Homo sapiens: one gene and its partners. The protein of the gene in region 1 purifies or fractionates together with the protein of each later gene. This does not show direct contact. Each region holds a gene or a part of one and is shown in the gene's direction. Other genes may lie near its edges.

The links.
Region 2: the proteins of STAT5A (region 1) and PDHX purify together in Homo sapiens (affinity purification with mass spectrometry; 2 studies listed by BioGRID and IntAct, with this or other methods). This does not show direct contact.
Region 3: the proteins of STAT5A (region 1) and SPICE1 purify together in Homo sapiens (affinity purification with mass spectrometry; one large-scale study listed by BioGRID and IntAct). This does not show direct contact.
Region 4: the proteins of STAT5A (region 1) and R3HDM2 purify together in Homo sapiens (affinity purification with mass spectrometry, with the first as the bait; one large-scale study listed by BioGRID). This does not show direct contact.
Region 5: the proteins of STAT5A (region 1) and KLHL7 purify together in Homo sapiens (affinity purification with mass spectrometry; 2 studies listed by BioGRID and IntAct, with this or other methods). This does not show direct contact.
Region 6: the proteins of STAT5A (region 1) and DLAT purify together in Homo sapiens (affinity purification with mass spectrometry; 2 studies listed by BioGRID and IntAct, with this or other methods). This does not show direct contact.
Region 7: the proteins of STAT5A (region 1) and PDK3 purify together in Homo sapiens (affinity purification with mass spectrometry; 2 studies listed by BioGRID and IntAct, with this or other methods). This does not show direct contact.

Annotation. Positions count from the first base shown.
Region 1 is NC_000017.11:42,298,096-42,302,505, forward strand, and holds part of STAT5A (signal transducer and activator of transcription 5A), read left to right. Parts: intron 1-1,655; coding exon 1,656-1,786; intron 1,787-2,034; coding exon 2,035-2,186; intron 2,187-2,619; coding exon 2,620-2,775; intron 2,776-3,179; coding exon 3,180-3,359; intron 3,360-4,410. UniProt on the Homo sapiens protein: Carries out a dual function: signal transduction and activation of transcription. Mediates cellular responses to the cytokine KITLG/SCF and other growth factors. Mediates cellular responses to ERBB4.
Region 2 is NC_000011.10:34,989,135-34,993,544, forward strand, and holds part of PDHX (pyruvate dehydrogenase protein X component, mitochondrial isoform 1 precursor), read left to right. Parts: intron 1-3,180; coding exon 3,181-3,245; intron 3,246-4,410.
Region 3 is NC_000003.12:113,504,247-113,508,656, reverse strand, and holds part of SPICE1 (spindle and centriole-associated protein 1), read left to right. Parts: intron 1-2,051; coding exon 2,052-2,150; intron 2,151-4,410.
Region 4 is NC_000012.12:57,424,178-57,428,587, reverse strand, and holds part of R3HDM2 (R3H domain-containing protein 2), read left to right. Parts: intron 1-4,410.
Region 5 is NC_000007.14:23,108,527-23,112,936, forward strand, and holds part of KLHL7 (kelch-like protein 7), read left to right. Parts: intron 1-4,410. UniProt on the Homo sapiens protein: Substrate-specific adapter of a BCR (BTB-CUL3-RBX1) E3 ubiquitin ligase complex. The BCR(KLHL7) complex acts by mediating ubiquitination and subsequent degradation of substrate proteins. Probably mediates 'Lys-48'-linked ubiquitination.
Region 6 is NC_000011.10:112,038,328-112,042,737, forward strand, and holds part of DLAT (dihydrolipoyllysine-residue acetyltransferase component of pyruvate dehydrogenase complex, mitochondrial isoform 2 precursor), read left to right. Parts: intron 1-916; coding exon 917-1,070; intron 1,071-4,410.
Region 7 is NC_000023.11:24,530,631-24,535,177, forward strand, and holds the end of PDK3 (pyruvate dehydrogenase kinase, isozyme 3 isoform 2 precursor), read left to right. Parts: intron 1-1,026; coding exon 1,027-1,140; intron 1,141-3,298; coding exon 3,299-3,442; 3' UTR 3,443-3,792; downstream 3,793-4,547. UniProt on the Homo sapiens protein: Inhibits pyruvate dehydrogenase activity by phosphorylation of the E1 subunit PDHA1, and thereby regulates glucose metabolism and aerobic respiration. Can also phosphorylate PDHA2.

The DNA of each region.
Region 1 (4,410 bases):
TAGCCTGGGTTATTGATACACAGGCGCCCTTGTGTTCCACATCCCCTGTGTCTTACGTATTTCATAATGGATACTTTTTTTTTTTTGAGATGGAGTCTTGCTCTGTTGCCTTGGCTGGAGTGCAGTGGTGCTCTCGGCTCACTGCAACCTTTAACCCCGGGTTCAAGCAATTCTCCTGCCTCAGCCTCCTAAGTAGCTGGGATTACAGGCATGCGCCACCATGCCCAGCTAATTTTTGTATTTTTAGTAGAGACAGGGTCTTGCCATGTTGGCCAGGCTGGTCTCGAACTCTTGACCTCAAGTGATCTGCCTGTCTCAGCCTCCCAAAGTGCTGGGATTACAGGCGTAAGCCACCGAGCCTGGCACATGATGGATACTTTTTTTTTTTTTTTTTTAGACAGAGTCTAGCTCTGTCGCCCAGGCTGGAGTGCAGTGGCCCAATCTCGGCTCACTGCAAGCTCCACCTTCTGGGTTCACGCCATTCTCCTGCCTCAGCCTCCCTAGTAGCTGGAACTACAGGCACCCGCCACCATGCCCGGCTAATTTTTTGTGTTTTTAGTAGAGATGGGGTTTCACTGTGTTAGCCAGGATGGTCTCTAGCCAGGATGGTCTCGATCACCTGACCTCGTGATCTGCCCGCCTCAGTCTCCCAAAGTGCTGGGATTACAGGCGTGAGCCACTGCGCCCAGCCCCATGATGGATACTTTTTAAAAGCTAGTGAGGCCTGACTTATTCCCTGTCCCGCCATCAATGAGACTCCTCACAGATGGTGTGGAGGGAAGCCGCCTCCCTTCGGCCTCCCTTTCCTGAGAGAATCTTGGTGGCTCTGCATCCCCAGTGGCCCTGGACACGCTCTCCCTCTGCGGTCTGTCTATCTGTCTGTCTCCCCTGGTTGGTCGGCTGGGCTCACAGTGAGCCCACCTGGACAAACATGCTGGGCCCCTTCCAGCCCCTCAAGAATCTCATCCTCCCCTGAGGAGGGACTGCTGTGCTCAGGGACGAGACAGAGCCGCCGGGGCTGGGGTTCCCTGAAGAGGCCTTGCTGCGGGAGGGATGGGGCCGAGCAGCTGCTTGTCTCTGTCACCTCTTCTCTCTGTCCTGTTCCCCGTTAACCAAGAAGCACGAACCTCACACAGAGCTCACCCATGTCAGGCAGCTTTCTGGCATCTTCCATGTCCTCATGTATTTAATCTTCAAGCACCCCACTGAGGCAGGTGCTGAGAATCTCCCGTTTTACACGTGGGGAAGCTGAGGCACAGGAAAGGAAAGCGATTTGCCCAGGTTCACCTGCAGTCAAGGGCATGGGCACACTTACACCCCAGACAGCCTGGACCCATGCTGGGACGCGAGAAGAGGGCTGGCAGCCCTGTGAGGCAGGCGGGCAGGAGGCAGGCAGGCCTCCTCCCCAGCTGCCCCAGCACCCGTGTGCCCCCAGAGGGGACGGCTCAGAGTCAGGAGGCTGGTGAGCAGGGCCCAGAGGCGCCTCCTGAGGCGCCATTCATCTTGGCCCCCCTGGCTGTCAGGAACCCCGACTTGCTCTTGATGCAGTGTCTGAGCCTGGGAGGGTCTCGCTCCAGAACAGGTGAGTGGGCTTCTCTAGGCCTCCTGTTGGACACTAGGAGGTGATGGTCATGGTTTCCTCTTCTCTCCTCTAGCTCAGTTTGCCCAGCTGGCCCAGCTGAGCCCCCAGGAGCGTCTGAGCCGGGAGACGGCCCTCCAGCAGAAGCAGGTGTCTCTGGAGGCCTGGTTGCAGCGTGAGGCACAGACACTGCAGCAGTACCGCGTGGTGAGTGGGGTCCTGGGCCTCTCCTGGGCGTGGGTGCCATGAAGTCAGTCTCTGGGGACCCGAGGGAGGGCTGGGACCAGCATGAGAGCAGAACCTGGGAGGGCAGGAGGCCTTTTTTCCTGGGGGCCTTGCGAGGCAGAGCAGCTTGGGGAGAGGGAACGGCCTGGGCCCTGCCCTGCCATTTCCCAGCGAGGCCCTGCGGTGTTCTCTGGGAGCCCAGAAGGGGCTGCTCTCCTCCCTTCCCTCAGGAGCTGGCCGAGAAGCACCAGAAGACCCTGCAGCTGCTGCGGAAGCAGCAGACCATCATCCTGGATGACGAGCTGATCCAGTGGAAGCGGCGGCAGCAGCTGGCCGGGAACGGCGGGCCCCCCGAGGGCAGCCTGGACGTGCTACAGTCCTGGTAATGGTGTGGGGCGGCCAGCGGGCAGGGCAGGAGGGGCTGGTGGGGACCCCGGCTGCTTCTGCGTCCTGTGCTGGCTCCTGCAGCAGGCCCCCTCCATCCTGGGACAGCTCTTGTTTCTCCAGGGAGCCTGGTTCCTCAATCAGACTTTGGTCCCCATCCTGTGCACCTCCCCCAGGAAGGGGGCTGCTGTCCTGGGGGTGGGATGGGGCTCGGGTGTGTGGGGTGATGCTTGGGCTGTTTGGGCCTAGTCAGGGTCGCCCCTCCTGTGTACGTCTCTAATTCTGGGAGGCAGGGAGCTCTGCTCTTCCCATGGGTGGGAAGTGTGGCGAAAGCACAGAGCCTTCCTGGGGGAACGGGAGCTGTGTCTTGGGGCCTGGCGTCTGTGAGGAGAAGCCATTGTCCTCCTGTTGGCCTTGGGGCTCTCGTGCAGGTGTGAGAAGTTGGCCGAGATCATCTGGCAGAACCGGCAGCAGATCCGCAGGGCTGAGCACCTCTGCCAGCAGCTGCCCATCCCCGGCCCAGTGGAGGAGATGCTGGCCGAGGTCAACGCCACCATCACGGACATTATCTCAGCCCTGGTGACCAGGTGACTGCTGCCTGTTTGCCATGCCCAGGAGCTTGGGGCAGCTCCTGCCTGCGTGGGGGGAGCTGCAGGTGCCTTCCAGACCAGCAGATCCACTTCCTGCCTCTCATCCCTCCCAACTCCATCTCCAGTTGCTGTGGCTGCTAGGTGCCGCCCTTGCCCAGTTTCTCCTGTGGACACTGCAAGAGATACCCTGGGCCGCAGCCCATGCCAGCTGCTGTGTTATCTCACTCCCCTCTCCATCCTCTCCCTGGACTCTCACAGCTTCCCCGGGAACAGAGGTTGTGCCCGAGCTCATCACCTCCTGAGCCCCATGGGAGGCAGCCCCACCCCCACCACAGAGGGACTGAGAGCCCTTTCCCCTGCGCCAACCCCTCATCGTGTGTCTGTCCCTGTGTCCCATGCAGCACATTCATCATTGAGAAGCAGCCTCCTCAGGTCCTGAAGACCCAGACCAAGTTTGCAGCCACCGTACGCCTGCTGGTGGGCGGGAAGCTGAACGTGCACATGAATCCCCCCCAGGTGAAGGCCACCATCATCAGTGAGCAGCAGGCCAAGTCTCTGCTTAAAAATGAGAACACCCGCAAGTAATTGTGCCTCTCCCTTCCCCTGCCCAAGCTTAGGTGTGGGGGACCTGCACCCCCCGCTTTGTCCTTGCATCCAGCTATGTCTTGTCCCCTAGTTCACCGTGTTGCCCAGGCTGGTCTCGAACTCCTGGACTCATGCAGTCTTCCCACCTCAGCCTCCCAAAGTGCTGAGTTGATAGGCGTGAGCCACCACACCCAGCCGAGTATCCGTTCTTTACCCTGGGGATGGTGTGGCTGCCGGAGAGCTGAGGCTCACTGCCACTGCCCAGCATTGTGAGAGACTATCACACCACTTTCTCCTGAAAGTGTATTGCTTCACACCATTGTAAATTCAAACAATCATGTCAAACCATCATTAAATCTGGGACAGATGGTACACTGCCTTCCTCCTACTCAGATGCCTTCCCTGTCCCTGCAACAAGCTTGGTGCTAGGCTAGATGCCGTGGCTTACCCCTGTAATCCCAGCACTTTGGGAGGCCACGGTCGGAGGATCACTTGAGCCCAAAAGTTTGAGTTGGACAATATAGGGAGACCCTCATCGCTACAAAAAGTTTTAAAATTAGCTGGGCATGGTGGTGCACGCACTTGTAGTCCCAGCTACTCGGGAAGCTGAGGTGGTAGGATCATTTGAGCCTAGGAATTTGATACTACAGTGAGGTATGATTGTGCCATGGCACTCTACCCTGGGCAACAGGGTGAGACCCTGTCTCCAAAAAAATCACACAAAGTATGGTGTTGTAGCTGTGTTCTAGAACCTGTGCTACGCACTGAGGACAAAACTGTGATCCCAACAGAACTGGGCTGTCTTCTCGCCCAGCCCCTTGAGCAGCAGAGCAGGCAGCAGATGCTGGGAAATGCCTGATGGTGTAGCCATGTGGCAGGGGGATGTGTAGGGCACCGAGAAAGGGGGTCTTCTTGCAGGATTAAAGAAATGACAGTCTTAGGCTCCTGGTGGAATTGGAGGTAGCTAGTGATAGGGAGGGAAGTAGCAGAGAGGGAGGACTTTCAGGCAGAGCCCATGTGCCACATCCTGAGGGAAGAGTACAGAGA
Region 2 (4,410 bases), on another chromosome or scaffold:
TTACTGTACTGAATAGTATAAGGAAATAGTGATACAATGGTACGTATTTGTGTGATAGGAATTTTTCAGCTCCATTTTAATCTTATGGGACCACTGTCATATATTTATGTCTTTGTCTTAAGTGTCCTTATGCGGCACATGACTGCATGTATAGAGTTCAGTACTATCTGCCATTTCAGGCACCTACTGTGGGTCTTTGAAGTATCCCCTGCAGATAAGGGGGGACTACTGTATGCAACTGGGAGAAAAAAAGGGTTAAGAAAGAAGAGACCTGAGTCAAACGGGAGAGTACTCTGCCAAAGAAGCAGTGAAGATTCCCCGAGGAATGTGAGGTTGTGGTCTTAGCAAGTAGGCAGTGGATAAGAGAACCTGCAGCAAAGAAACCAAGGCTCTCTACCTGGTGAGGCAGGAGTAGTCTTTTTGAAAAGACTGTGGGATCATGGACAGGTTGAGCTCTGGATTCTCACTAAGAGACATACTATCCAGTACACACTTCCCTCTGATCGTCACTTGGCTGGCTTTTTTTCATCATTGGTTTCTCAGTTCAGTTGCTAATTTCTTAGGCCTTCTGCAGCTTCTGTAGCTGAAATAGTTTCCTAACACTCTTTATCTCATTACCCTGTTTTATTGTCTTCATATGGTTTATTAGTCTTTGAAATTACCTTGTTTATTTATTTGTTCACCCTTCTGTGTTCCCTACTGTCTGATGTTCACTGTCCATTGCCATTTATCTAATTCTAGAAGAGTGCTTGGGATACAGTAGTTGCTTGGTGAATTTATTTTAAAACAAATTTCAGTAAAACTTGTTTCATTGAAATTAATTTTTCAAGAGTTTGTGGCTCTCTGCAGATTCATCCATGAACCCCAAGTTAAGAATATCTGTACTACGCATTTACTTCTTGACCCTCTGTAATCCCAAGGATGCCACTGTGGGGGCTGTAGGCATACCCCAGCCAAGTTCAAGTTGGTATTCCTTGAATAAAGTAATGTAGTGACACACCTTGGATCCTGTGTTATTCTTAATTCTTCATTACTTATAACAGTATTAAAAGGCAGAGGCATAGTTTACCTTATAAGTACCCAGTAAATTTTTTTAATGAATAGCAAGGCATTCGATGTATTGTAGAAATATTTAGTGGTCATTTTTTATTCTTTCAGCTGGATGCTTCAGGTAACATGTACTTTGATTTTGAGTCCACATTGCCAGGAGATCCCAGTGATGATTACAAATTTATAAAACCAACGATCCTTCTCAGATTCCATACCTATTTCAGACTTACTAGAGTTCACTGACAGGAATTTCCTGTTGATGTATTTAGGATCTACAGAGTTTTTGTTTTTAGTATGTGTGCGTGCAATCTACTTATTAAAGTGAGTTTTTTTCATTTGTGGTAATTGTGTGGTAGTTCATCAGGATATGTTGAGATCATCTGCCTTTAAAAAATGCCTTTTAAAGTTCATATATGTGTCTTTTCAAATCATGTGAACAATTACATTGCTTAAGGGAGGAAAAATGCTTTTATAGATTATTCTCTCTCCCGTTATTCCAAGAACTGTATAAGTCAAAATTCATCTCATTTTTTACCTTGAATCCAAATAGTTTTATAAATAACCACATCCAAATAGCATACACCTGTAATTGTTTCTGTTGGCAGTACGTTACAGTAATGTGTTTTTAGATTTTTGATATTTTTAAAGACTTTCAATTTTAAAAAATTAAATCATCTATGAATTAAAGTTAGTTATCAACTGTGATTGTAATAGTGCCTATGTTGCCTATGTAATACAAAATATTAAGTAAATTCCACATTTATTTTATCTACCCAAATGACAGTGACCTCATTTTTCTGTACCCTTCCTCTTAAGTTAATTCGTTATTAATTTTTTATATATGATGACTCAACCTCTGTTCCCTTGCTTTTAAGCACTGAAAAATAAAAATTAACAGAAATGTGGTTAATTCCAAGTACAAGTGAGAGGAAAATTTAACTAATATGTCATCTGTCTTGTCTTCTGTAAGATTTTTAGAAATCGCTGTGGTCAAGAGTGATATGAATCAAGTACATCCTTATATTCCTTGTGGCAGTGTAAATTGGACTAGCTCATTCAGGAAATGATTTAGCTATAGGATCAAGAACCAAAAGAAGTCTATTCTCTAGGGCACTATAATTCCACTTCTGAAAATTTACCTGAAATAATTCAGAAGAAACCGTGAACCAAATTATAACACTGGGAAATAACCAAGTAAATTAGGCAGGTGCAGTCTTTAGGAACAAACATTAAAAAATCATTTCTGAAGGCTGACAACACAGAAGATACATATAATATTGAACAATTAAATATAAAATTTATTTTTTATAACCATTGTGTGGGGTTGAGATTGTGGATAAAGATGAAGCAAACTCTGAAAGATAAAAACGGAATGTTGGTTGTGGGATTGTGGGTATACTACTTTGGTTGCCATTGGATAATTTATTTAAAACACACAGATTGGCCAGGCATGGTGGCTCATACCTGTAATCCCACCACTTTGGGAGGCCGAGGTGGGTGGATCACTTGAGTTCAGGAGTTGGAGACCAGCCTGACCAACATGGTGAAACCCCATCTCTACTAAAAATATAAAAAATTAGCTGGGCGTGGCGGTGGGTGCCTGAAATCTCAGCTACTCAGGACGCTGAGGCAAGAGAATTGCTTGAACCTGGGAGATGGAGGTTGCAATAGGCCATAATCACACCACTGCACTCCAGCCAGGGCAACAGAGTGAGACTTCTCAAAAAAAAAAAAAAAAAAAAAACTAAAAAACACTAGATTGACCAGAATGGATTCTTGTATTTTTTTTCTTACCATAAAGTTTTATAGGCAAAATAGAAAATTTCATTTTGCATATAGGAAACTCTAAAGCATTTTGCATAATAATTGATGGTACACAGGGTAATTCCCACATTTGAAAAATTGTTAAAGGAAGTGATTTTTCTAGAGTTTTGATTAACAGCTTTAGTTTCTTGAATTATCTGTGCTCTTGTTTGTTCTTATAATTAGAGAAAATTATTTTTATATAGGTAACAAAATCAAATCAAGGCATATCAGAGATGAGAGTATATGATGTACAAATATTTCAAGTGACAAGATCAACTGTATAACATTTTGTTGGTTGTCCTATTCTGTTTGTATTTTTCTCAGGCTCTATCAAAGAAAGCAAGAGATGGAAAATTGTTGCCTGAAGAATACCAAGGAGGATCTTTTAGGTAAAATTTAAACTCTTAATTATCCATAGCATCAAACAGATAGATGTAAGACTTATAAAGTCCCTGTCAGCCTTTCATTTATCTGAAATATTTTTTAAAATTTAAGCTAAAAATACTTTATTTAGACAATAGAATATCTGAAAAAATTCTTCAGACTAGTCAGGCTTTCATATTAAAGCTAGTAGGAACCTATTAGTGTTGAACTAAACGTTCGTTGGACATTGACTAACATGGAATGATAAATATTATGTATTCTTTAGTATCTGACCCACCCCCAATATTAATGTCTGTAATATTATATTGCTATGTGAAACAACCACTTATTTATTATTGCAGCATATAATATTCTATTGTATAAATATACCAGAATTCATTTTACTGTTGGTGGGCATTTGCGTTGCTTCCAGTTCGGGGCTATTACAAATTATGGTGCTATGAACATTCTTATTAGTGTCTTATAGTGAATGTATGTACATTTTTTGTTGTATAGACCTAAAAGTAGAATTCCTAAGTTAGAAGCTTTAGCAGCTACTACCAAACAATTTTCCAAATGGTTATACAAATTTACACCTCCACCAACGGTCCTGAGAATTCCCATTGCTCCACATTCTTGCCACTATTTAATAATGTTAGGTTTTAAATTTTAACAATTCTTGGGGTGTGTAGTGGTACTCTTTGTAGGAAAATGCAAATTAGTGATGTTGAGTACTTTTCACTCATCAGCCGTTTGGGTATCTGGTAATTCATGAGATAAAGTACCCACTGCAATCTGGTGTCCATTTAAAAAAATGATGTATAGTTCTTATTTCTGGATATACAGACCTTTATAGGATATATATTGTTTCAAATAGCTTTCACACTCTGTGACTTGCCTTTGGGACTCTCTCGGTGATTTTTTTAAATGAACGGAAGTTCTGAGTTTTAATGAATTCCTATTTATCAGTATTTTTCTTTGTAGTTGGTACTGTTCATTTTCTGTTAGGAATTTTTGCCTATCTCAGAGTCATGAAGTTACTCTTCTGTGTTATCTTCTAAAAGCATTTACGTTACTTTTCACATGTAGATCACAATTCAACTGAAATTGGATTTTGTATATAATGTGAAGTTTCAAGTGCTCTTTTTTCCCCATATGGATACTAAATTTACACAGCATCATGTATTGAAT
Region 3 (4,410 bases), on another chromosome or scaffold:
GAGCAATATGTGAGGATTCTAGTTTTTCCATATTTTTGTCAGTGCTTGTTGTTGTCCGTCTTTTTGATTATAGCCATCCTAGTCGGTGTGAGGTGGTATCTTGATTGGCATTTCCCTAATGACTAATTATGTTGAACATCTTTTCATGTGTTTATTAGCTGTCTATAGTATCTTCCTTGGAGGAATGTCTATTCAAGTCCTATGCCCATTTTTAAATCGGATTTTTTAAATTGTCGAGTTGTAAAATTTCTTTATATAGTCTGGATTCAAGTCCTTTATCAGATAGAGGATTTGCAGATACTTTCTCCCATTCTATTGGTTGTCTTCATTTTCTTGATTGTGCCTTCGAAGCACAAAAATTCTTAATTTTGATTACGTCCAATTTATTTTTTTCTTTGGTTGCTTGTGCTTTTTGTGTCATTTCTAAGAAACCATTGCTTAACCCACGGCTCACGAAGATTTACTCTTATGTTTTCTTCTAAGAATTTTGTAGTTTTAGCTCTTATATTTAAATCCATGAATCAATTTAATTTTTGAATATGGTGTGAGGTAGGAGTCCAACTTCATTCTTTTTCATATGCGTATCCAGTTGTCCCAGCACCATCTGTTGAAAAGACTATTCTTTCCCCGTTGAATTGTCTTGGCACCCATGTTGAAAAACTGACCATAAATGTAAGGGTTTGTTTTAGACTCTTTGTTCTATTATATTCTGTATCTTTTTAAATGGTACTTATGGCTCTGCTACTTACTAATTGTGTGACCTTCATGGTTGGTTAACTTTTGTCTCTCAGTTTTCTCGTTTGTAAAATGAGGAATAAATAGTAAGTACCTCATGGGGTTATTGTGAGGATTCAAGAAAATAATGTTTAAAGAGCTTAGAATAGCATCTGGCTTATAGTAAGCACACGGTATCTGTTAGCTGATGCCATCATTACCACCGTGGCTATCATCATCATTACCATCATAAAACTTAAATGTTATTTTCTAACTTGTATGTGACTTGTTTTCTTTGGCTGAAATTGTAAATGCTGAAATTAGATACCATGTTTAAGGAGTGAATGTTCTTGTTAAGAGAGAGTACAGAGTGCAAGGAAGATTGAGGGCAAACTCTTAAGAAATACTTGTATTTAGACATTTTTATTATAGTAGACAATGATTTTTTTTTAAAAAAAAGTACTTAAGGAAAATACTAGAGTCCTTGTTTTAGACTAATTGGGAGTAAGGGGGTCAGCTGGAAAGTCCTGTAATTATTTAGGTAGGTTAAAAGTGTCTGCAATAGTAGTCATGTATATGTATTGCTTTTTAAAAGTCATATATATGTATTGTAAAATCCTGGTGTTCGGGGACTATGGGTCTTTTTCTAATTTGGTGTAATGTGTAGTCTAGTGTGCTTAGCATTGCTGTTTAAACAGTGGCAAACTAATGTTGGCAATTTAAAAATTCTAGTTTAAAATCAATAATTATTAATTTGTTTATCAGCAATAGAAAAAAATCAATAATTAGCACCATTTAGCATTATGTGACAGATATATTAGAAGTGATATCATACCTCATTTGTTCTCTAAAGTTTAGCTACTTTTATTTTCAAGTAAGCCCATATGTACCTGGTAGTGATTTTGAGTGTTAGAGTGCTTAAAAAAGAACTCCAACTCTCTTTTGCCCTTTCTTCCCTTCACCTTACATTCATATTGTTAGCTTGTGACTGGGCTATTTTCTACTAATTGTAAATTTGTGTAACTGATGACAAAGCTTATGACGAATGTCTTAGTTCTCGGCTTTAGGCCATAATTTCTGCATTCCTAGAGTTCTTTTTTAATCAAATATATAAGTTATTGACTTGAGACCTCTTTTATTATAATTATCAGTACCAACATTTATTAGTTGTAAAATAAAAGAACTAAGTATTTTGATAGGCTGTTCCTTTCATCATGCTTAAATTTTTCTTCTGGCATTTTAAAATTTGTTTTTTTTTTCAGGTGTCTTCCCCCACTCTGGTGATGCTTATTGTTTTTTCTTGTATTTTAAAAATTTGATGTGATTATTATTCCTAGATGTCATTTGTCAGAGTGAACCGCTGTGGTCCCCGAGTTGGTGTAAGAAAGACACCGAAAGTAAAGAAGAAGAAAACTTCAGTGAAACAAGAATGGGATGTGAGTATAGGTGGGATAGTAAATAATGTAACATTACTCTGGAGAAATGGACACAGTGATATGGCCCTAGTCATGCAAGATGGTGTTCTGAATGGGGCTCATCACGTAATAGGGTGGAATAGGTTTCTGGGCATGTGATATTCTAGGTCTTGGAGGGAAAAGCAGAATCCTTTGGGGGAGGTTTTTAGAATACACACATCCAGGCTGTAACCTCTATATCCTCTGAAGAATTGGAATCCTAAGGGGATGGGGAGCATATTTTAAAAAACGTCTTTTCACTTTGACTCTGAGAACTCACTGCATAAAGGCAACTCTAGCTCACTGGTGTCAATGAAGTCTGTGAATTTTTCGGTACCTTTTTTAGGTTTGCTCAGAGCAACCAGTGATATCATAACCATGTGAGTGCCAGTTTTGGCTGAAAAAAATAGGTGACCTTTGCTCTCTTATCCCATGAATTGCTCAATTCCAGAGGTTGATCGGTTTCAGAACAAATGTTCTCTTGTGGTATAAGACAAGGCTGAAGTACCTGTAACATGTGATGTATGGCTCCTAACCTGAATATTGCCTGGTGTTACCAAGGGGATTTATATCTTTTTTTTAAGAGACAGGGTCATGTCCTGTCACCCAGGCTGGAGTGATGTGATGCCATCATAGCTCACTGCAGCCTTAAACTCCTGGACTCCAGCAATCCTCCTGCCTTAGCCTCCTGAGTAGCTAGGACCAGAGGCATGCACCACCACCCCTGGCTAACTTAAAAAAAATATTTTTTGTAGAGACAGGTCCTTGCTGTGTTGCCCAGGTTGGTCTTAAACTCCTAGCCTCAAGCGATCCTCGTGCCTTCGCTTCCCAAAGTGCTGGGATTATAGGCGAGCCATTGCACCCAGCTAGATTTCTCTTTTGTGACCTGATACTTTGGTTTGGACCATGAGACTTTAGGTGTCTTTACTTTCCATTGTGAAGAGTAACTAGTTAGGGATTAGTTTGGATCTCAGGGATTCTTTTGGACTTGGAATCTTCTTGTTTGCAACCTACCATGTTAGCCAGATATCCTGGGCAAACTGACAGCCTTTGAAGTGGGGCAGCGGGACTTCTCTGTGTTTAGATTGTTTTGTTGCTGTCTGATTGGCTATAAAATTTTAATAACAAGGATGTGACTCTAAGGTAAGGAAACTGATAAATCGGAAAAAAAAAATATGTGATAACATATTTTCCCCTTCAGAGTGGTTACTTTGAGAAGTTTAGTACAGTTGACCTTTGAACAACATGAGTTTGAGCTGCACGGGTTCATTTACGCATGAATTTTTTTTCAATAAATACAGTTGGCTGTATCCTGGGGTTCCACCTCTACAACGAAAGGTGGATTGAAAATACAGTGTTTTCAGGATGTAAAACCCAGATATGGAGAGCCAATTAGGTGGGATTTGAGTATGTGTGGATTTTGGTATATGTGGGTGTCCTGGATACTGTGGGATGACTGCATTTATTCCAATATGCCACTATTGCTTAAAACTTAATTGAAATCTATCATTTGAAATTGCATTAAGAACCTTCCTCATTTTATCTGCAGTGCTGGAAAAATCTTTTGTTTTTTGAAGGTAGACTGAACTTGGAAAATAGTCATAAGTCATTTGGAGTAAATGGTAAATGATGGAGAAGAGATCAAACTGATTATTACTGTCTTGATAAAAATAGTGAAACATTTTCTGAAATGGCTTGTAGATTAGATTTAAATGGAATGTCAAAAGAAAATGGTTTTAAGCAATGGTTTTAGTATTGATGGAATTATTATTTTCTTCCATGAGAACAAATTTCAAGCCTATCACTTACTTGTATGCCTGAGTTTTTAAATGCCTATTAAAAACAATTCTCATGATCCTGTAGTTGTACCTTGTACCTTTCTTTTCCTTTTCCCTTTTTTTTTTTTTTTTTTTTTTTGAGACAAGGTCTTGCTATGTTGCCCAGGCTGGCCTCAGACTCCTGGGCTCATGATGAGATCTTCCTGCCTCGGCCTCCTGAACCTCCTGGGTAGCTGAGACTACAAGCGCACACCACCATGCCTGGCTCTTGTACCTTTCTAAATCATTGTAAAAGTAATAACAGTTTTCATACAGAAAAGCCTTGAGCCAAATATAAATCATGGCCAAAAAGTTTAGTCTTTGATCAGAAGCCATTTTTGACTGTTCGTATTCCTCGTCACTTAGAAGTAAAACTAACTTGTTTTATTTCCTGCCTTACCAAATCTGTGTAGCAAAATGGCTGA
Region 4 (4,410 bases), on another chromosome or scaffold:
TGTCTCCTGGGTAAATGCCATTCTCCTGCCTCAGCCTCCTGGGTAGCTGGGACTACAGGTGCCCCCCCACCACGCCCCCCACCACACCCCCCACCATACCCGGCTAATGTTTTGTATTTTTAGTAGAGACGGGTTTCACTGTGTTAGCCAGGATGGTCTCGATCTCCTGACCTCGTGATCTGCCCACCTCGGCCTCCCAAAGTGCTGGGATTACAGGCATGAGCCACCGCGCCCAGCCAAACCAATCTTAGCTTTAAAGCTCTAGATCTGTGGCACCCTTTTCCCCTAACATGCACACTGGCCTCTGGCTGTTCCTTGAGCACACTAGGCACACTTCTGCCTCAGGGTCTATGCTCTTGTTTCCTCTTCCTGAGTTACTTTTCTCTTACAAAGCTGTGTAAGAGCATAGCCTGTCTGTCCCCTCATCTCCTTCAGGTCTTTACTCAAATTTCACTCTTTTTTTTTTTTGAGATGGAGTCTCGCTCTGTCACCCAGGCTGGAGTGCAGTGGCATGATCTCGGCTCACTGCAACCTCTACCTCCTGGGTTCAAGCGATTCTCCTGCCTCAGCCCCCTGAGTAGCTGGGATTACAGGTGCCTGCCACCATGCCTGGCTAATTTTTTTGTATTTTTAGTACACACAGGGTTTCACTATATGTTGGCCAGGCTGGTCTTCAACTCCTGACCCTAAGTGATCCACCCACCTCCACCTCCCAAAGTGTAATCCCAAAGTGTAGGGATTACAGGTGTGAGCCACTGCGCCTGGCCCAAATGTCACTCTTAACACTGATATTCCCTTGGCTATCTGGATGGCAAAGCCCCTCCTGCATACACATTTACATAACTCTCTATCCCCCTTTTCTGCTTTATTTTCTGCCTTAACCCTTATCAACCTATAACGTATTATATATTTTAATCTCCCCTAGTAGAAAGCTTCAGGGCCAGGCGCAGTGGCTCACACCTATAGTCCCAGCACTTTGGGAGGCCAAGGACGGGGCATCACCAGAGGTTAGAAGTTCGAGACCAGCCTGGCCAACATGGTGAAACCCCATCTCTACTAAAAATACAAAAATTAGCTGGGTGTGGTGGTACACGCCTGTAGTCCCAGCTACTTGGGAGGCTGAGGCAGGAGAGTGGCTTGAACCTGGGAGGCTGAGGTTGCAGTGAGCTGAGATCGTGCCACTGCACTCCAGCCTGGGCAACAGACTGAGACTTTGTCTCAAAAAAAAAAAAGCTTCAGGAGAGCAGGCATTTTTGTTTTATTTATTTTATTTTATTATTATTTATTTATTTTTTTTGAGACAGAACCTCTGTCTGTCGCCCAGGCTGGAGTGCAGTGGCACGATGTCAGCTCACTGCAACCTCCACCTCCCGGGTTCAAGTGATTGTCCTGCCTCAGCCTCCTGAGTAGCTAGGATTACAGGCACGCGCCACCACGTCCAACTAATTTTTGTATTTTTAGTAGAGATGGTGTTTCACCGTGTTGGTCAGGCTGGTCTTGAACTCCTGACCTGGTGATCCTCCTGCCTCGGCCTCCCAAAGTGCTGGGATTGTAGGCGTGAGCCTCTGTGCCCAGCCACATTTTTGTTTTATTAATTTCCGTATCCTCAGCACTTAGCACAGCACTTGATGTTCAGTAAAGTGCACAACAGATTTATTGACTGAGTAGGTAAGGAGGAGTTTTTTCCTTGAACTCTTTCCATGAATTTTTCATCGTGATTAGTTGTCCTTGGAAGGGTGGGATGGGTTTTCACTAGGAAAACCTGGTTTTCTAAGGTACTCATTGAGAGATGTTGAGATGTTTTTTCTGGGGATGTTTCTCTTTGGACAAACATCTCGTGCTTTGGGGCCATTGAATGAAAATACTCTGAGGGCAGAGAAGAGGATGGAGTGTGGAAGTCTTTGGTATTGGTAGTCTTATCTCAGATTTATTGTGGCTAGAATTTTTACCTACTTCATGCTCTTCCCTTGAGGTTTGTTCATGTCCCTTCCAAGACAAATATCACTCGTTACTTCTCTGACCCTACCTAGCTGAGCAGGCTGGTTCCACTTTGAGTTTTCAGTAGCCTGAAGATGTTAATATTTATAGTTCTGTCTTTATGGGCTAGTTCCTACCCTCAACCCCACCAATTCATGTAGAGACAGTTGAGCTTAAAAACTTTAAGAATAGGTTTCTCTAACAATGGTAGAATGTTCAGTTCTAGAGAACACTTGATCCTTTTTTCACAGATTGATTTTGGGGGGCATTTTTAGCAACTAAATCTATGCTAAGTTTGAGGATAAAAAGGAGCAGGCACCCTAAATTCTGTGGGTTATCCCTCATTTTATCTTTCCTTAATTAATTAATTAATTTATTTTTTTGAGATGGAGTCTCGCTCTGTCGCCCAAGCTGGAGTGCAATGGTGTGATCTTGGCTCACTGCAACCTCTGCCTCCTGGATTCAAGGGATTCTCCTACCTCAGCCTCCCAAGTAGCTGGGATTACAGGCATCGGCTACCACGCCTGGATAATTTTTGTATTTTTAGTAGATACAGGGTTCTGTCATGTTGGCCAGGCCACTCTCGAACTCCTAACCTCAGGTGATCTGCCCGCCTCGGCCTCCCGAAGTGCTGGGATTACAGGCATGAGCCACCGCGCCTGACCTATCTTTCCTTAGTTTCTTGGTTGGTACATTAGTTACCTCCATTGATCTTCCGGCTAGAGTAACCTGGATGAGATTTCTCTTTGGGGCGGTTTGGCTACTCTTCTTTAGCTCAGGAAGGCAAAGGGAGTGAAGTGTGCGTTTTTCGTTTTGAGAGAGTCTTGCTGTGTCTCCCAGGCTGGAGTGCAGTGTCCTGATTTCAGCTCACTACCACCTCCGCCTCCCAGGTTCAAGCGATTCTTCTGCCTCAACCTCCCAACTAGCTGGATTATAGCCACCCGCCATCATGCCCGGCTAATTTTTGTTTTTTTGTAGAGACAGGGTTTCACCATGTTGGCCAGGCTGGTCTTGGACTCCTGACCTCAGGTGATTCGCCTGCCTCGGCCTCCCAAAGTGCTGGGATTACAGTTGTGAGCTGCTACGCCCGGCCTGAAGTGTGCTTTTAACACTTTGTAGGAATGCTAGTGGCAAAGCTAAGGCTTTTGCTTAAACCTTTGCGAGGACATTGAAAGCTGCCAGGCCTAGGAGAGAACAGTTAATGGGAGGTGCAAGAATTGGGGATCTGCTATGCATTTGTCTGGACATAGTTCTGATATTATTAGTATAAAGAAATAACTGCATCTTCTAGAATTATATTAGTAGTTCTCATTTTGTGAATAATTTTTTTTTTTTTTTGAGACGGAGTTTCGCTCTTGTTGCCCAGGTTGGAGTGCAATGGCACGATCTCGGCTCACCGCAACTTCCACCTCCTGGGTTCAAGTGATTCTCCTGCCTCAGCCTCCCCAGTAGCTGGGATTACAGGCATGCGCCACCACACCTGGCTAATTTTGTATTTTTAGTAGAGGCAGGGTTTCTCCATGTTGGTCAGGCTGGTCTCGAACTCCCGAGCTCAGGTGATCCACCCACCTCAGCCTCCTGAAGTGCTGGGATTATAGGCGTGAGCCACCGCACCTGACTGAATAATTTCTTTTTATTTATTTATTTTTTTGAGACGGAGTCTCACTTTGTTGCCCAGGCTCATGTGACAAATTACAGTCAAAACTTTGTTTTACGTGCACCGTTATTAAAAATATTGTATAGGCTTGGCTTGGTGGTTCATACCTGTAGTGCAGCACTTTGGGAATCTGAGGCGGGAGGATTGCTTGAGCCCAGAAGTTTGCAGCTGCAGTGAGCTATGATTGTGCCACCATACTCTGGCCTGGGTGACAGAATGAGAGCCTGTCTCTTAAAAACCCCAAAAAGGCTAGGTTTTCAAAAAATACAGTTCATATTTTTGTTGGGCCTGTGTCTTTGTTGCGTATGACAATTGTAAGAATTTATGGTTTTTGTTTATGAGGAACAGTATGGGCATCAAGAAATCCTTGGTGTCTTGGAAAAGGGTGGGTCAGACTTGTGAAAGCTTACAGGATTAATAACAGAAGACTAGGAGGAAAGTAATTAAGGCAGTGACAATCCAAATTTAATGGTAGGTACATTTGAAATATATGGTCAGGTGTGGTGGCTCACGCCTGTAATTCCAGCACTTTGGGAGGCTGAGGCGGGTGGGTCACTTGAGGTCAGGAGTTCAAGACCAGCCTGGCTAACATAATGAAACCCCATCTCTGCTAAAAATACAAGACCTTAGCTGGGTGTTATGGTATCACATGCCTGTAATCCCAGCTACTCGGGAGGCTGAGGCACGAGAATTGCTTGAACCTGGAAGGCGGAAGTTGCAGTGATTGAGATCACGCCACTGTACTCCAGCCTGTAGCACTGTAGCAGGTGAATGTA
Region 5 (4,410 bases), on another chromosome or scaffold:
ACCAGAGGTCCCCCCTTATGCCCTTCTCAGTCACCAACCCCACAGTAGTAACAACTATTCTAACTCTGTAACCATCGAAGTTAGAGCAGAAGCAACCATTGATAAATACCATGCCATGCCATCTTCTAAGGGCACTATGCACCCCTGTTATTAAGAGGAGCTCTTTGTTCTGTCTTTGGTGTGTGGTGCATTCATGAAAGTCTGCAGCACATCGGCAAAAAGTGGGTTTTTCCTGTGTTTGAACTTATATAAATGTAATCATATGGCATAAACTCTTGTGTTTTGTTTTCTTAAAGCCAACATTGTTTGTGAGATTCATCTGTGCTGTGTGTAGCGCTACTTCATCCTTGTGGTATATAGTATCCCATTGAATGAATATAGCACAATTTATCCATTCTATCATTATGAACATTTGGGTTATTTCTAGTTTGGAACTATTAAGACTAGTACTACTTTGAACATTTTTGTACACTTTGTACATGCCTTTTGGTATGCATATGTATGTATTAATATTTGTGTTGGGAAATACCAAACAGGAATTTTTGAGTCATAAGCTATACCACCTTCAGCTTTAAAAGATATCGTCGTGTAGTTTTCCAAAGTGATTGTACCATGTTACGCTTCTGCCAGTTGTGTGTGAGAGAGGTTTTTGCTCCGCATCCCTGCCATCACTTGATGTTGTCAGTCTTATCACTTTAGCCATTCTAACTGGGTGTATAGGAGCATCTTATTTAATTGGATTGAGTACCTTTTCATTTATTTCTTTAACTTTTTGCTTAGATTAATGTTATTACCTGATATGTAAAATAGAGGCTTTACAAGGCAGGTCTGGGTCACAGTCACTATTGCACATGCACATTGCTGTTGCCATACTCTTCTTTTGTGTTAATGAAGTCCAGGAGTCTCTTAACATTGGAGGAAGATGTTTTAAGACCTTCCTGAGTACCACCATAGTTTATAGTTTCTCCACATTAAATGAATTAAAGCATAACTGGAACTTGAAAGCTTATGTTAAAGTCCTTATTGAGAGTTATGTGAGAGAACTACAAAGCTGATTTCACAATTAGATACTGGGCAGTTAACTGGGCTCACCTTCCGGCTAAAATGACTTTGCTTCTGTATTCTCATCTGTCTGACTGTAAATTACTACATGTCATTATCTTTAGGTTCTCTTGTGAATAATCTAAACCTTCAGTGTTAAACCCTTGATATTAATAAGACTTCTTGAGCACTTATAACTGTTCCAGCCACTCTGCAGAGTGTTTTACATGCTTTGTCTCATTTAATTCTCTTAACTTTCATTGACAATTCCAGTCATCCAGACCTTCTTATTCTTTTTCCTGTACTTTACTGTTTTCTGTTTTCTTTTTCTGTCTGTCCAGCTTAGAAGCTATTGTCACTCCACTGTCTCTCCAGTGTCCCAGTTTTCTTGACCCTCTGTCCCTTTTTCATGTCCATCTGGCAAACTTGAGTATTGATGACTGATTACCTTCTTTGTGCAAGGCTCCAAGCACAGCTGGAAAATATCTCACTGGGCAACTTCTGCCAAGTAAGTGCTTGGCCACTAATTTCCACTAGACTATCAGTGCCCGTGAGCAATCTTTTTGTTTTACTATTTTCCTCCAATCTGAGTCCTTTCTCTAGATCCTCACTTTCAGCAGATCACCTTCTTTTGACACCATAGATAAATAGAAGTCATTAGTCTAGAACTGTCTACCTTTTCACTTTCTACCACCAGATCTATAAACCTATTTTGACACTTTCCCTTTTCTCTTCTTATCCTGCTACAATGGAGATGCTGCTGCTTTTTCTAAGGCCAGTACTTCTACCTAGGCTTTGGCTTCCTGGATGCTGGGCTTCTCAGAAGTATTATACTGTTGGTTATTCCATCTTTGTTGAGCATCTTTAACTTTTCTTCTTTGCTGGATTCTTGCTATTAGCACTTAAGCTTGTTTTAACCTCTCCAGCTTTTGAACCAAACAACCAGCAAACCCATTCTTAATCTCAACATACCCCTCTAAATACTTCTCTCCCCCCATTAAGATGAAAAGCTGAGTAAATTCACTACATTTTCTTTTGTTTTTTTTTTAATTTTATTATTATTATACTTTAAGTTTTAGGGTACATGTGCACAATGTGCAGGTTTGTTACATATGTATACATGTGCCATATTGGTGTGCTGCACCCATTAACTCGTCATTTAGTATTAGGTATATCTCCTAATGCTATCCCTCCCCCCTCCCCCCACCCCACAACAGTCCCCAAAGTGTGATGTTCCCCTTCCTGTGTCCGTGTGTTCTCATTGTTCAAGTCCCACCTATGAGTGAGAACATGCGGTTCACTACATTTTCTTACTTACTATTTATTTATTACTCTAGTTCAATTTGGCTTCCAAGTTCATTCATTGAAATGAATACTTATTGACAACCCACTGTATGCTAAACATTTTGCTAGATTCTGGGGTTGCAATGATAAGCAAACCCTGACAGTCCCAATCCTCTTGTGGTTTATAGGCTAGTAGAAAAGCAAGACATTAGTCAAGTAATCACACAAATAAATGTAATATTGCAACAGTGGTAGGTATTACACAGGAGAATAACATGGTACAACGAGGGCATATGGGTGGGTAATTTGACCATCAGGAAGTTTTCTCTAAGGAAATGGTCATTGAGAGCTGAAATAAGAGTAGGTGTTAACTAGGTAAAGAGAAAAGGGAAGAGTGACTCAAGTAGAGGGAACAACATATTCAGAGGCTCTGAGTTGGAGACCTACTTTATTATAGAATGGCAAGTTCGAGACTGATTAAAGGTCAGTGTAATTGGAGCACAGAACATAAGGCGGACGATGGTTCTAGATGAAACTGGCGAAGTAGCTAGAGACCTGCCCATGCATAGCTTCATAAGTCAAGTTAGGTGATTTGCCCTTATTCTAAAATCTGTGTATGCATGTTTGTGTGCATGTGCATGCATGTTTGTAGAGATGGTATGTTTTCTTCTTTAAAAAAGATGACTTGGCCTGGCACAATGGCTCACACATGTAATCCCAGCACTTTGGGAGGCTGAGACAGGTGGATCACCTGAGGTCAGGAGTTTGAGACCAGTCTGGCTAACATGGTGAAACTCCATCTTTACTAAAAATACAAAAAATTAGCCAGGCATAGTCGCACGTGCCTGTAGTCCAAGCTACTCAGAAGACTGAGGCAGGAGAATTGGTTGAACCCGGGAGGCAGAGGTTGTGGTGAGCCAAGATTGCACCATTGCACTCCAGCCTGGAGACAGAGTGAGACTCCGTCTCAAAAAAAAAAAAAAAAAAAAAAAAAAGACTTACTGCTTTGTGGTAAATGAATTAAAGAGTTTTCAGAGTGCTTGCTGGCAGACCAAATAGGAAGCTGTAGTGGTCCAGTGAGACATGATGGTCCTTTGGACTGAGGTGATGACAGTGGCAGCCATAAGCAACATCAATGAAGAAAAAGTGATAGATTAAAAAGATAATAAAATCAACAGGACTTGGTGATGATAACTGCCATATGTGGTTGTGATAACTAAATTAGGTAACCAAATTAAGATAACTTAAAATACGACCTGATAACAAGTAACATCTCAGTAAGTGTTAGCTATTTGTATTGTGATGCTGGTACATGATTGGATGTTGAGGGATTCAGCATAAGGTGTCACTTATGATCTCTAGGGTTCTGGAATGCATAACTAAATGGATGATGACACTATTCACTGAGAAAGGAGGTATTGGAAAAGGATCAAAGCATTGGGGAAAGGATTATAATTTGTGTTTTAGATGTGTTTAATTTGTGATATCATTGTGACACTGAAGTATATATGACAAATTGACAGGTCTGGAAAGTTGTGGGTTAGATGTATATATTTGTGAATTATCTGCATATAGAAGATAACTTCTTCATTGAAGCTGTGAAGAGTCAAGAGTCCAGAGTCCAGAATAAAGGATAGAAAATGGGCCTATGGAGGAGATAACAAAGGAATCACCAGAAGAATAGGAGAAAAATGAGAGTTTCGAAAATTGGGAAGAAATTGTTTCTCCTTCCCAGCAAGTCAGGATGGCCAAATGGTCTAAAGCACTGTATTCACAGGAGGACTGCAACTTTTGAAGCTGGTAAAAGATCAGAATAAGATTAAAACTAAAAATACTTATAGTAGGACATAGCAACACAGAGTGGTTTGTTGACTGTAGTAAGACTTATTTTGATGGGCAGACAAATGGGAATCAGATTAATGTAAGCTGAAGTGAGTAGAATATGAGGAAATTCTGGCAGCTGTTTTGAGAAATTTGGCCTTGAAGGGAGAGGGAGTCAAACGAAGGTTGCTGGGTTTTATTTGTTTAAATGGGAAAGATATAGGTGTCTTTAAAAACTAGTGGGAAAAAGAGATGTAGAGGTTG
Region 6 (4,410 bases), on another chromosome or scaffold:
AGCTGGGATTACAGGTGTTAGCCACCATGCCCGGCTAATTTTTTTATTTTTAGTAGAGAAGGGGTTTCACCGTGTTGGCCAGGCTGGTCACGAACTCCTGACCTCAGGTGATCCACCCACCTCGGCCTCCCAAAGTGCTGGGATTACAGGTGTGAGCCACCACACCTGGCCGTATTTCTTAAGATACTTTTCAACATGGGGCCTTACAGCATAATTTTATATTTTGAAATTAGCTGGCTGGGTGTGGTGGCTCATGCCAGTAATCCCAGCACTTTGGGAGGCTGAGGCAGGTGGATCGCTTGAGGTCAGGAGTTCAAGACCAGCCTGGCCAACATGGTGAAACCCCATCTCTACTGAAAATACAAAAAATTAGCTGGGCGTGGTGGTGCGTGCCTTTAATCCCAGCTACTTGGGAGGCTGAGGCAGGAGAATTGCTTGAACCCAGGAGGCGGAGGTTGCAGTGAGCCAAGTTTGCGCCACTGCACTCCAGCCTGGGTGACAGAGCAAGACTCTGTCTCAAATAAAAAGAAAAAAAAAAAAGAAGTTAGGATAATTAAAAATAAAAATCATGTTGGTGATGTAAAAGAATGCGAATAAAGAAGTGGTAAGAGATTAAAGTGAAGAAAGGCTGTAGAATACTATACACTGATTGGCAATATTCAATTCTGTGCTTCATGTTGTTATGGAATAAGGTAACTGTTCTGTCTTTGATATAGAAGTATATTGTTCTCGCTGTTCGTATTACTACATTATGTTGGTTAAGCTGGCGAAAAGTACATTATGATCTTTGGAAAAATGAAAGTTATTAATATTTAATTAAAATAGTTTTAATTTATTAATAAGATGTAAACTTTTAATCTTTCAGACCAGTCTTTGAAGTGGTGAATTAAAACAATTTGTAATTTTTTTTCAAAAGGTGGCCGCTGTTCCTCCAACTCCCCAGCCTTTAGCTCCTACACCTTCAGCACCCTGCCCAGCTACTCCTGCTGGACCAAAGGGAAGGGTGTTTGTTAGCCCTCTTGCAAAGAAGTTGGCAGTAGAGAAAGGGATTGATCTTACACAAGTAAAAGGTAAATCTGTTTCTATAGAATGGACTTTATAAAGTTAAAATTTAGTTGAATTTCCTCCTTAAGACTTGCAAGTACAACTATGTATAGCCGTACTTATAATTGGGATAGTAGGGACAATCATTAATAATTCCTTCAGAAGGGAGAAATAGTTCTTTTGTTGCCACCACAGAGTAGGGAAACTTTTACTGAGCTTTATTTACTCTGCCTAGAATCTACCCATACACTTTAGATACCTTTTTTTTTCCTCTTCTATTCATGGAAACTGCTTGTTTGGTGAAAGTATATGTAAAATTTGGTTATGGGACTTGATTATGTAATAAGAAACCTCTGTTAGTGCTTGGTTGACTGTAGCAATAAGCAAAGCAAAATAAAATTTGAAGTTGGGGTGATTTGGAATGACTTAATAAAATTCATATAAAACAGAACTAGAGCTCCCTGAAGGCAAGGGAAAACGCCTTACTTGTCTGTCTGCCGCCAAAGAAAAAATATAGCTTTGTGATAAGAGCATGGGGCCTGGAATCAGACCACCTAGCATTTAATCCTGGCTTTATAATTTTCTATGTAATATGTTTTCCAGTGAATTACTTAGATTGTATGTCCTTATGTCAATTACTTTTCTATCTGTAAAACTGAGGTACTGTACATCGTATAGATTGTGAGAGTTAAATGAGCTATAACAGGTGAAGTGCTTAGAACTGTATCTAGCATATAAGTACTCAATACATGTTAGTTGTCATTCATATTGATATTACTGCCTGGTGCTTAAATAAGTTTTTTTGAATTAAACTTAAGCTAAAATTTAGTGTAGGATAACTAAGGTACTTATTTGGAATGGGGGGAAGTTATTATGCTTGGAACTTGGTTTGATGGCTTGTACTATGTGTCAGTCATTTAACTTACCATACTTAATGTACACAACACTTCTTGAAGTAAGAATTATCATTCCTTATTTTCTGGATAAGAAAACAGACTCTCAGACTCTTCAGGGTTCTTCCTTCCTGTTAAATAGTAAAGTTGCAGTGTAACTCTAGATTTGTTTAACTCTAAAGCCTGTTTCTTCACACTACCCTATCCTGCCTTCTGTTTTGATGCTCTGCCATCCATAATTACTAAAGAAAAATATGCTTATTTCCCCAATTTTCTAGTTATGGGTACTCAATGGTGGTTATCCCGTATCTGCAATTTGCTATCTTGTAGTTAGAAGTCAAGCCAATCCCAAGACACAAGAGTAGAATGTTGTAAATTTTTTGGACCTCAGAGATTCTTGTAATATTGGAAGATTCTTTTTTTTCCATCTTAATGCCATTTCAGTAGTATATTGCTATCATATATGTATATATGATTAGAATCAGGGACAGCAGTGTAAGTTGGAGTAACTTTTAAAGGGAGAAAGGACTGGGTTAATAATTATATCTAAAGAATTTAGACAAGCAAAGAAGGACCATTTATTAGATATTCAGCAATACTCGTTACCTTACTAAAGATATAAGTGGAAAATCCCTTAGGTATGAGCTGAGAGGAGTGTTAAAAAAAAAAAAGAAAGAAAGAAAATCCCACTGTTCTTACTATGCAGGCAGAGTTAGGTGATAAATATCATCGACTGCTATCTACACATCAGACACTTGTTCATCAGATGGATAAGATTTCAGTTTCAGTTGCTTATATGACCAACAATAAAGAATTAAATGAACAGAAAGGGAGTATAGCATAGTAGTTAAGAGTGTGAGCTCTGTAGCTGGAATGCTTGGGTATGAACCTCAGCTCTTTATACTAGCTGTGTGACCTTTTGTGTCACAATTTCTTTGTATATAAAAACATTAGGTTTAATGGTTGTGAGGTTTAAATAAGTTAACCAGTGCCTGTACAGAGAAAGCATATCTAGGTATTAGCTATAATGATAATAATATTTTTGTTATTAAATAAGATGATTTGAGTGCTAAGAAAGAAAGAAACTCAGTGATATACTAGTGAGTGAAAGGGTGAATGGATATATGTGCAGTCATGACTACTTTTAGACAGGTTGGTTGGGAGATCTTTTTGATGAGGTGACATTTGATTTGTTTTGAAAGATAAGAAGGAGGCAGCTTGAGCCAACCATGTGAAGAACTGGGGAAAGATCATTTTGGATAGAGAGACTAGCTGTACACAGTCTGAAATGGGAAAGAGTTTAGCATGTCTGAGGAACATAAAAGAGGCCAGTGTTGGCCAGGCGCAATGGCTCACGCCTGTAATCCCAGCACTTTGGGAGGCCGAGGCAGGTGGATCACAGGTCAGGAGATGGAGACCATCCTGGCTAACACGGTGAAACCTCGTCTCTACTAAAAATACAAAAAAATTAGCTGGGCATGGTGGCAGGCGCCTGTGGTCCCAGCTACTCGGGAGGCTGAGGCAGGAGAATGGCGTGAACCTGGGAGGCCAAACTTGCAGTGAGCCGAGATAGTGCCACTGCACTCCAGCCTGGGCGACAGAGCAAGACTCCGTCTCAAAGAAAAAAAAAAAAGGCCAGTGTTAATGAAGCATAATGAGCAAAGGGTCTAGTAGGAGATGAGATTGGAAAAAAACAGGGATGAGAACATAAATGACCTTATAGATTATGGTAAAGAGTTTGAATTTTATTTAAAGTACTTGAGGAAGCCATTGAGAAATTTAAGCAAAGAAGTGAAATAAAATGATTATGTTTTGAAAAGATCATTTTGGTTGCTCCATGGAAATGGATGAAACGTTTATATAGTTTATGTTTGACAAGATCCCTACTTTTTGTTACCCATAGTCCAGTGTTGTTCCCTTTATACCATATTGCTTTATGATGGCCTGTTGTGCCGCCCAAGAGAGATAGGGAAAAGGGTTTACAAGGTTTCAACTAACTCCTAAGTCAGGAAATTCTTGTGGGTGGCTGAAGCTTAGCATAAGGCAGGTGGTACTATGGATTTCCTCCTCTTGAGGGACTGTGGTGTCTAGATCAGCCTTGGTTGTAAGGGGAGGTTATGGTTTCTGTCTTTTACAAAGGAGAGAAATCTAATAGGGGTACTACCACCTCTGTTCTAGAGCTCCTAGTGAGGATAAATACAATCCTAGCCAACTCAGTTTTCGTAATGAAGGAAAGGAATTGGGAAGAACTACACACAACAAGAGTCCTTTTTAAAGTCTGCCTTGGGGGAAGATGAATCAGTTTGACCAAATTTTTCCTAGAAGTGGGCCAGTGTAAAAGGTATTCTATAATAATAACTAAATTCTGAATCTCCGTAGAATTAAAGGTCAAGATTATCTACTTGGGTCCAAAATTAAACCTAAGAGGCTGTAGGTGGGAGGAGGGAGGAAATTGAATATAAGTAAAATTAAA
Region 7 (4,547 bases), on another chromosome or scaffold:
TTAACCAGAAGTGAGGAAGCTTGGTGTTACATCTCCTTCCCCACCCTGCCCCACTACCACCACAAATGGTATTACATTTAGTTTTGATTCTTACTGTTCTTGTCCATAGAACACCTGTTATTGACAGTCAGGATTCCTTGACATAGAGATATAGGAGGGTACTGAAAATTTTTTTAATCTCTAAAAATACCTGAACTACAATATACCAAAATATTCTCACATTCCCGGAACCTTAGTAGTTGCCTCTCAGAAAATTGTTTTCCTTTCCATGTTCTCGTCTTGTTACTGGTAGATTTGTACTCAGCACTGCGCTATTGATTTTCACTTGCAAAAGCAAGGAAATCTGATCATGGGACTTTGAAATGATGTGGTTTAGTTTTGTCATCAGGTCACATTCCACTTGATTTGGAATGTGCTTTTGTGTGTGTGTGTGTGTGTGTGTGTGTGTGTGTGGAGATGGAGTCTTGCTCTGTCGCCCAGGCTGGAGTGCAGTGGCGCCATCTCAGCTCACTGCAACCTCCACCTCCTGGGTTCAGGCGATTCTCCTGCCTCAGCCTCCTGAGTAGCTGGGACTACAGTCTCCCACCACCTCGCCCAGCTAATTTTTGTAGTAGAGATGGGGTTTCGCCATGTTGGCCAGGCTGATCATGAATTCCTGACCTCAAGTGATCCACCTGCCTCAGCCTCCCAAAGTGCTGGGATTACAGGCGTGAGCCACTGTGCCCGGCCTTGGAATGTGCTTTTAAAAAAATGATAAAATTTTGCTTTAAAATGCTAAAAAAGCATTAGTCAAAAATTAGAATATTTCTATTATTATCCAAACATATAAGACATGTTTTTGCAGGGTGAAAATAAAGGGGTTGTTTGCCATAGAAGAGGATATACATCATTGTAAAGGTTGAGTCAGTAATTTATTTGATTTAAATCTGAATCAAGAATTTATTTTAACCTTCTCTGAATGGTCATCATATAAAATGTGTTAGCATTTGTGCCTGTCTCACTGTATTAATTTTCTTTTCTCAATAGGCTGGATTTGGTTATGGTTTGCCAATTTCCCGTCTGTATGCTAGATATTTTCAAGGAGATCTGAAACTGTATTCCATGGAAGGAGTGGGTACTGATGCTGTCATTTATTTGAAGGTACTGCGTTTTATTTGTTAGTATGAGGCATCTTTGCTTTTTAAAGCTGTAAGTTCTAATCGCTGATTGAGAACAGCACTGTATCATCTCTTAGATTCATCTCAGATTTACTTCATTTTCCCATGAAAACCATGTTATGCCTCACGCTTGATTCTATGCTCAGATAAAGCAAAATATGAAACGTGGAGGTATAGAAATTAAAATACTGATTTTGGCCGGGCGTGGTGGCACATGCCTGTAATCTCAGGACTTTGGGAGGCTGAGGTGGGTGGATCACCTGAGGTCAGGAGTTCGAGACCAGCCTGGCCAACATGGTGAAACCCCATGTCTACTAAAAGTACAAAAAATTAGCTGATGTGGTGGTGCACGCCTGTAGTCCCAGCTACTCAGGAGGCTGAGGCAGGAGAGTCATTTGAACCCGGGAGGCAGAGGTTGCAGTGAGCCAAGATGGTGCCACTGCACTCCAGCCTGGGCGACAGAATGAGACTCCATCTCAAAAGAGAAAAAAAAAAATTAAAATACTGATTTTTAAAACCATAATTTTAAATTGTGACTTAAAAAACTACATGCCTATTGAAAGGTCTGATCTAAAAGAAGGCAGATTTTCATAAACTGAAGTATTTTGGTCTTTTGTTTTAAAAACTCACTGGCTTTCCCAAAGCTACAAGAATTCAGTAATCATAATATGGTTATGTAAAAGATTCATTTAATAACAAACTTCTCTGTAACACAGTTTTTCTTATTCATTGGTGATCATTGGGCTTTTATTTCTAAACTCTAGAATATTTGTAACATTTTTTTGAATAGGTAATATAGGCACATAATAAAAATTTAAAAGCTACAAAAGGAAAAATGAAGTCTCTCCTCCCACTGGCCCTAAACCGCCAGTTCTGTTCAGCGAAGATCACCACCGGTCTCAGCGTCTTATGGATCCTCCTAGAGTTGATTCTACATTTATAAATATGGGAAAAATAGAATTTTTCCCACATAAATGAAATTTCAGCACCTTCTTATTTTTTTTACTTTGCAATCTGTCTTAGAGATCTTTCCAGATCCATTTATGTAGAACTGGCTCATTCTTTTAAACAGTGGCATAACATGCCACTGTGGGTCAAGCATCCCTAACCCAAGAATCTGCAATCCAAAATGGTTGAAAATCTGGAACTTTTTGAGCGCCAACGTGATGCTTGCTCAAAGGTCAAGCTTAAAGGAAATGCTTATTGGAGCACCCCAGATTTCAGATTTTCAGATTAGGGATGCTTAACAGGTAAGCACAATGCAAATATTCCAAAATCGGAAAAAATCAGAACTACTTCTGGTCCCAAGCATTTCTTTCTTTCTTTTCTTTTTTTTTGTTTCTTTCTTTTTCTTTTTTTTTTTTTTTGAGATAGAGTCTCACTCTGTCACCCAGGCTGGAGTGCAGTACTGCCATCTCGGCTCACTGCAACCTCTGCCTCCTGGGTTCAAGCCATGCTCCTGCCTCAGCCTCCTGAGTAGCTGGGATTACAGGTGTGAGCCACCACACCCGGCTAATTTTTTGTATTTTTAGTAGAGACAGGGTTTCACCATGTTGGCCAGGCTGGTCTCGAACTCCTGACCTCAGGTGATCCACCTGCCTCAGCCTCCCAAAGTGCTGGGATTACAGGTGTGAGCCACTGTGCCCGGCCTGTTCCCAGGCATTTCAAAGGGATACTCAACCTATGTATGTGATACCAGAATTTAACCAGTTACTGGGAGTATTTATCTTAGATGCCCATGCATCTAAGTAATGCGATATTTAATATACTTGATGGTGTGTGTTTATAAACCTGGGATGCATGAGACTGTATCTCTTCCTGGGCCCTTTGTGAGACCAGTCACCAGGTATAGTCAAAACAGTTGAGCATCTCAAAGCAGTATGAGCTGAATTAAAATATGTTTTGTTCTGGTCATGTGTATTTCAGTTCTGATTTTGAATGAGCAAATGTTTTCATTCCTTTAAAAAAGCTTTAATGTTTTCCTGGCCAGTCTAAGTAAACTACTAAGGTGTAATTTTAATATCATTTTGAAAATATGTATTAAGGTTTCTGATGTTTTAAATAATAAAATTTGGGTTACTATTTCACTTGAGAAAAATGACACTGTCGACCTTTGGTGTATATTTTTGTTTCTCCAATAGGCTCTTTCAAGTGAGTCATTTGAGAGACTTCCAGTTTTTAATAAGTCCGCATGGCGCCATTACAAGACCACGCCTGAAGCCGATGATTGGAGCAATCCCAGCAGTGAACCCAGGGATGCTTCAAAATACAAAGCAAAACAGTAATATACCACCTTGATTTCCATTACAAAGTATCTGATTTGTCTGAATAAAGGTGTCCCACTCACTGTTCCAGGAATTCTTGCAGTGTAGAGGTATTCACAACAGCAAGCAGGGATTTGGCCTGCCATCAATTTTATTTAAAAAGCAATTAAGTTTGCAGTTTGTCCTCATAAACGTTGTAGGTTGAAACTGAAAAATAAGTTAAAATGATCAATCAAGATAAAAGGTGATCTATCCATCCAATGGAATATTATTTGGCCTTAAAAAGGAAGGACATTCTGATATGTGCTGCAACATGGGTGAATCTTGAAGTCATTATGCTAAGTGAAATAAACCAGACATAAAAGGACAAATACTATGATTCCACTTATGTGAAGTACCTAGAGTAGTCAAATGCAGAGACACAAAGTGGAAGGGAGGTTGCCAGGGGCTAGCGACGAAGATGGAATGGGGAGGCATTGTTTCATGGGTACAAAGTTTCAGGTGGAAAGATGAAAAACTTCTGGAGATGGATGGTGGTGATGCTTGCACAACAGCGTGAATGTACTCAATGCCACTGAACTGTACATGTAGCAATGGTTAAGATGGTAAGTTCTGGGCTGGGTGTGGTGGCTCACGCCTGTAATCCCAACACTTTGGGAGGCTGAGGCTGGATGATCTCTTGAAGCCAGGAGTTCAAGACCAGCCTAGGCAACATAGTGAGACCTCTGTCTCAGCAAAAAATTTAAAAAGGTAAAATTAGCCGTGTGTGGTGGTGTGGGTCTGTAGTCCTAGCTACTCAGGAAGCTGAGGCGGGAGGATCACTTGAGCCCAGGACTTCCAGGCTGTAGTGAGCTATGATTCGCACCACTGCACACCAGCCTGGGGGACAGAATAAGACCGTGTCTCAAATAAGAAAAAGGTGGTAAGTTCTATGTTATGTATAGCTTATCACAATAAAAAATGTTAACATTATAAAGGAAAAGTTATCAATCACAGAACAAGTTTCACTGTTTTATGGTAATAAGGAAAATAATCTGTAGTTTTCTTCTGACTATGTACCCTTAAGCTTCAACTCTACTAGCAACAGTGGGGTTCTGCTTCATTTAACTTAAAATAATCCTGTATT